2 separate regions of the Homo sapiens genome follow, and region 1 is reported to be linked to region 2. The links are microRNA targets in miRTarBase. Many come from high-throughput screens and were not tested one by one. Region 2 holds a microRNA gene; the other region holds the end of a gene's coding sequence.

Region 1 (3,000 bases), not on the chromosome of region 2:
TCTCTTAATCAGCATGTTTGATGGAGTTATTTGGAAAATGGTTGCTTATACTGACAGCCAGTTGTATTCAGCATGCCTTCTGCTGACCATTACATAAGTGATTCATTTAGGACTAGAACTAGATCATAATAGTGGCAGAGTTCACCCTGTTTCTAAAAGAACGGCCCATCTTCCCTTCAGAAGTGGGTTGATACTGCCACTCAGTGGTCAGCTTCAGGAACTTCAGGATTTCTCCCCCAAAGCCAGGAATAGGCAGGACAATTACGAGAGGGGTGCCCACTAAGATCTAATTTCCCCCCCAGGATGCTCATCAGCTCTTTTTGGTCTGTTTCTTCCCAGGACACAGGGGTCTTCTAAGGCTCAGCATCCTTCCAGGGGCTTTGCAGAACATGGTAAACAGCAGCAGGGGAGAGAAGAGGAAAAAGGTAGTGGTGGCATTCGGAAGACCCGGGAAACAGAGCGGCTCCGGCGGCAGCTGCTGGAGGTGTTTTGGGGTCAGGATCACAAAGTGGACTTCATCCTGCAGCGGGAGCCATACTGCCGGGACATCAACCAACTGTCTGAGGCCCTGCTCAGTCTTAACTTTTGAGCCTCACCTGCTTGAGTGGCTGCCGCCCTGTCAGCTCCAGCCGCCTCCAGCTCAGCCCTTTCTGTGAGAGTCCCTCTGCTGCTCACTCTGATCCAGAGGCACCCTGAGTTGGTGCTTTGGATCAGGGAAGCCACTTTGGGACAGGTCCATAAAGTGAACTGATCTTACCGAGTCAGGACCTCAGCCAGCTCTCAAGAGGTTCTGCTCAGCCTTAACTTCTCAACTTTGCCTTAGCACAGGGTTTCTGTAGGGAGTGGGGGCTGCTAGAGGGGATTAGTTCCGGAGACTGAGACTGTTGGCTCCACCTCCAAGCTGAGCTAGGGTGGAGGGCAGGGTGGGCAGGAAGTGACAGGAAGTTAAGCTGTTCCTCTCCCTGGCTGCTGCTCTGGATGGCCAGAGAACAAGATGCTCCCTTGCTGAGCTCCTGGGAGCGTGGAAGGAGATGCTAGGCCCTGGCACAGTGTTATGTGGACTGGGCCACGATAGGGTGGAGTGAGCTAGTGAAGAAGGCAGAGGGAGACTTGGCTTCTGGTCTCAGCTATGCCTGTTTTGTGACCTTGATTGAGTTGCTTGGGCTTTACTTCTGCCTACAAATCAGGGGTAAAAATACCTGTTGGGAGGAGAAATGAGAACATAGAGGAAAGCCTCTTGGAGGAAAGGTGCTTGGACCAAGTCTCAGGTGTGTCTGCCTGTGGCTGCACAGGCTCTCTAACCGAAACCTCACTTTCAGAGAGATGTGGGTCCTTTGTCTCCAGGATCCACACCCTAGATTTTAACACTGCATTCTCACTATAACGTGCCCTATAATGGCTGCATCCCTTTTGAGCAACCTCCAAAATCTACATTTACACAGTAGGTAAATTAGGGATGACTGCATTATCAAAATACTCTCAGGGTTCCTATAAATGGCAGCTCTCCTGTTGTATTCAGGTGTTGTTTACAGACTAACAAATGTGTTGGCAAATCCCTGGTTAGATGCACTTCCTGGTGTTGAGATGAACACGTCGATTTTTCACCAATCGATGAAGCCATGCTCTGCAATGACAATATTAATGTGATCCGACCCTAACATTTTCTCTATGGAAGACGTATGTTGCATAAAGCAAGGCACACTTCTGCTTTATGTGTGTGTGTATGGGGATGGGAGGACTTAACGGAAGTTGAACCAGTTGGTTCTAGATGAACCAATTATCTGGAAAATGAAAGAACCAGAGTTGGAAGGCACTTGACTGGCCACCAGACCAACTCTGCTGTTACTGACATGCTTTCTTCACCCTGATTCCTAGAGGTCATTGCCCTGGATCTGCTTGAAGTCCTCCTGTGCCAGGGAATTTACTATCTCCAGGGTAGCACATTCCCTGTGTAGACGGTATTAATCAGTACTCCTTACTTTAGTGCAGCCTAAAGTATGCTTTTCTGTTACATCCACCTTTGAGGCTGGTCATACCTCCAGGAACAATACAGAGCCAGTCAACTTCCTGGAATCCAAGACCAGATAAAGAAGTAGGACAGGTGCCCCTGGGTTCTGTTCTGTGTGGGCCTGTGGGGAGTCTCTAGACAAGATCTTTTCCAGGCCCTGACTTCTGCCTCCCTCTGAGTGGCACAGGGAGTTGAATACTGCATGGCGAGTGTAATGATGATGGGGAGGGTCCTTGTGTCCTCACCCCTTCCTTTTTGGTGATTTACACCACTGTACCATACTGACCCAGGCTGGGGGCAGGTGTGTTGGAGACAGGCTGGTCAAAGAGGTGACAATGATTAAGAGATAACCCAGCGGTCCCTGAGAAGAGATTGGTTAGTATGGCCTGAACTGGTGGCTGGGGGAACTGTGTCTGGTCAAGTTATGGCAGATGTCACAGCTTTAGGTAGGTAAAAAGGGTCCTAGATGAAAACCTTGGAGTTTTTTTTTTTCCTGATAGGGTTGTTTATACTTCTTGATTGGTTTCTTGCCATTTTCACTTTCAGTGATGGTGGGTGTGCAGTAGACCAAAAGTGTCTTCTGCCCTTTTGTGCTAAGGGCCCTGGTTGACTGAGTGGCCCCAGTCAGATGAGAGGCAAGTCCTAAGCTTCTTATAGACAGGGATGTTGACTTTGTTCTGCTGCAGCCTGATAAACTGGGACCACTGTGTGGTTAGTAATGCACTTGCCATTTGGTGACACAGACTGAAGGCTATCCTACACCTGGGCCTTACCTCTTCCTCTACTGGCATCCTAATGGCACTCTGACAGCATCCAGGGTGACTACAGGGCCCATTGGAAATGGATCATCATTCTCTCTTCTAGTGTCTATCTTTATCATAACCTGATGTCCCAAACTTGTGACAAGTTCTTTTGGCAACTGAAGGACCAAGAAGGGAAACGGTGATGAGAGAGACTGCTCATTGTAACTTTCAAAACCCCGTCTTTGGGGA
Region 2 (3,258 bases):
TGGAAGTTGGACCTCAGAAACTGCAACTAATGACGCTTATTTGAGTCTGTGTCCTCTAGATGGCAGTAGAGGAAACACCATTACACTCAAGGTGGGCTTGCTAACAGCTCACAATTGGCCTTCAAATGGGCATCGTGATAATTAGGGATGTTGAGCATTTTTTCGTATGTTTGTTGGGTGTCTGTATATCTTCTTTTGAGAACTGTCTATGTATTTCCTTTGTCTACTTTTTTTTTTTTTTAAGACGGAGTCTCACTCTATCGCCCAGGCTGGAGGACAGTGGCCTCCGCCTCCTGGGTTCTAGCCATTCTCCTGCCTCAGCCTCCTGAGCAGCTGCGATTACAGGCATGCACCACGACGCCCGGCTAATTTTTGTATTTTTAGAAGAGACGGAGTTTCACGATGTTGGCCAGGCTGACCTCAAACTCCCCACCTCAGGTGAGCCACCCACCTCGACCTCCCAAAGTGCTGGGATTACAGGCGTGAGCCACCACACCCAGCCCTTTACCCACTTTTTGATGGGATTATTTCTTTTATTCTTGTTGATTTGAGTTCCTTGTAGATTCTGGATGTCAGTCTTTTGTCGGATACACAGTTTGTGAATATTTTCTAAAAGACTACATATTGGGTAGAGAGTCGTTGCTCCAGTGATGAGTGCAACAAAATCTCAGAAATCACCACTAAAGAGCTCATCCATGTAATGAAAAACCACCTGTAACCCTAAAACTATTGAAAGTTTTTTTACAAAAAGAGCACCTATGCTTTGGAATGAGAAAAGAAACCAGAAGTGTGTGGTTCCAGGGAGAAGAGTGGGAGCTTCAAAATGTTCCAACTTGCACTGATGTAAAAGAGTTGTTGGCTGGGCGTGGTGGCTCAGACCTGTAATCCCAGCACTTTGGGAGGCCGAGGCAGCTGGATCACGAGGTCAGGAGTTCGAGACCAGCCTGGCCAATATGGCGAAATTCCGTCTCTATTAAAAATACAAAAATTAGCCGGGCATGGTGACTGGTGCCTACAGTCCCAGCTACTCAGGAGGCTGAGGCAGGAGAATCACTTGAACTTGGGAGGTAGAGGATGCAGTGAGCTGAGATCATAACACTGCATTCCAGCCCAGGTGACAGAGTGAGACTCCACCTCAAAAAAAAAAAAAAAAGGAGTTGTTAAGATTGCAAGCCCAGGAATCAGGTGACCTGGGTTGTGTTCCCAGCCCAGTTTTCTTAGCCACAGTGGAGAAAGTTACGGAAATTCTGTGTGCTGCAGTTCTCCCAGCTTATATGGAAGAGTACCTACCTCACAGGTTTGAAGGAAGGCTCATTCATGACCACTTTGTAAAGTGTTATCACAGCAGCATGTGCGGGACAGTAAGTGCTCACTAAATCACAGTGATGCGGCTGTATTAAACCTTCCCAATATGCCCTTATAGGCTCCAAAACAAAAGACAAATAAACATAGTTGGGCTAGGTGGCTCGTGGACAGGGCCTGGAGGTGAGTGCTATTTCCAGATAAATCACCGCTGATATTGTGTGTAATTACATGAAGCCAAAATTCAACTGTTCCTACAAGACATCAAAGCCCTTGCCTTGCTGAAAAATACAACAACAACAAAAATGATGGCTCTCATGTACTGAGCTGTCACTATGCTATGCACTTTTCATCTGCTTAATTTGATTCTCACCACAACATACAGGGTAGCTATTAGCATCTCCATCTTAAGGGGGTCAAATAACGTTGACCAGGAAACAGCTACAAGAGGTAAAAGGGCTTGCCCAAGGGACACAGAGATTGATGTGGGTTGGGAACCCAGCAGGTGTAACTCCCATATTCATCCTTACTCTCGTTCATCAGACTGTGGCTAGTTGTCTCATGACATCGTCTCTAATACAGAATAATAATTATTTTTAGTATACTGAATGCATACATGTGATAGGTACCATATGAAGTAGCTTACCTGCATCCTGTGTCCTTTGTGAAGAGGCCTCTTCTGGGCACACACAGATGCCCTTCCTCTGGTACCTCTGTGCCCTCCTTGGCTTCCTAGCTTAAGTAGGACTGGAAAAGAAAGCTCAGACATCCAATCCTCCTGTGAGATCTTTAGACGGAAGCTTATAGAGAGCAAACAGGTGGAGGCTTAACCTTTCTTTCCTACTTGGGGATGCCATTTCTACTGTCTCCACTCTATCATTCACCTGACCCTAGTGAACACCCCAGTGTCCATCCCAGAAAATGATCCTACAATGGGAGCTGCCTTTGGCCAAATTTTGACTTTGTAAGAGAAAAGCTCATCTAGACAATGCTCAACTTCCTTTCACCAGACTCTGGACACTTCATTGAATAAATACTCAGTAAGCACCTCCTAAGAGCCAAAACTCAATACTAAGTACAAAAAATGAGGGTAGGGGAAGGCAATGATCAAGTAGCTTCCGTTCTAGGAGGTGGGAAACATGAATGCAGAAGGGCAAAGGAGTCTGCAATAAATTACCTAAAACTGAAGTCAAAATGTAATGGATACATAGAAGAGACACTTTTTTTTTTTTTTTAAATATGGAGTCTCGGTCTGTCACCAGGCTGGAGTGCAGTGGTGCGATCTCGGCTCACTGCAACCTCCGCCTCCTTGGTTCAAGAGATTCTCCTGCCTCAGCCTCCCGAGTAGCTGGGACTACAAGCACCCGCCACCATACCCGGCTAATTTTTGTATTTTTAATAGAGATGGAGTTTTGCCATATTGGCCAGGCTGGTCTTGAACTCCTGACCTCGTGATCCACCTGCCTCGGCTTCCCAAAATGCTGGGATTACAGGCGTAAGCCACCACGCCTGCCCGAAGAGAGACTTTTAAATGTGCATGAGGATTGGAGAGAGCCTCTAAGACCCTGACCAGTAACATCAGCCACCAACATCATCATCATCAACCTCATCACCTTCATCAGAGCAAATTCCGACATACTCAATGACCGGTTGAGTTTTCTTTGCTTTGCTTTAGATTGTTTCAAATGTAGATGCAGCACCTCTGAGTGCCAACAGTCACGTTTTGGGGACTGGTTTGGCCATCTGTTGTGGACAACCTCTAGATACAAGTGCGACCCTTCCAAGGGGAATCACTTCACCACTCCCACTTTCCCTTTCTTAAATGTCAAATGTTGCCATTCTGCAGCTGTTTTGGAATAGATGGAGAAAATAACATCAGAAACCAACTAAAAAAAACATATTTGGTCATTAAACATCAGCAAACTAAAACATGTAAAGTTCAAGTTGCTCCCCTCT

What was found. The annotated mature microRNA hsa-miR-8065 reads UGUAGGAACAGUUGAAUUUUGGCU and lies in region 2 at 1,538-1,561, opposite strand. An mRNA with a match to its seed (bases 2 to 7 or 8) in the 3' UTR can be bound and repressed. Matches are read on the target gene's strand: a 7mer-m8 pairs with bases 2 to 8, a 7mer-A1 pairs with bases 2 to 7 and ends in A, and an 8mer does both.
Region 1: the mRNA of KHNYN is a reported target of hsa-miR-8065. Seed matches in the 3' UTR shown: 7mer-A1 at 2,763-2,769.

What each region holds. Positions count from the first base shown.
Region 1 is chr14:24,436,697-24,439,696 of GRCh38, forward strand. KHNYN (KH and NYN domain containing) reads left to right here. Exons shown (of 8, transcript NM_015299.3): 8 at 340-3,000. The coding sequence ends at 589. Among named protein-coding and RNA genes, the nearest start is that of SDR39U1, 4.6 kb to the right of the region's middle.
Region 2 is chr16:5,630,836-5,634,093 of GRCh38, reverse strand. It overlaps MIR8065 (microRNA 8065), which reads right to left and starts at 1,627; the gene lies at 1,528-1,627. It also overlaps a transcript of RBFOX1 not described here.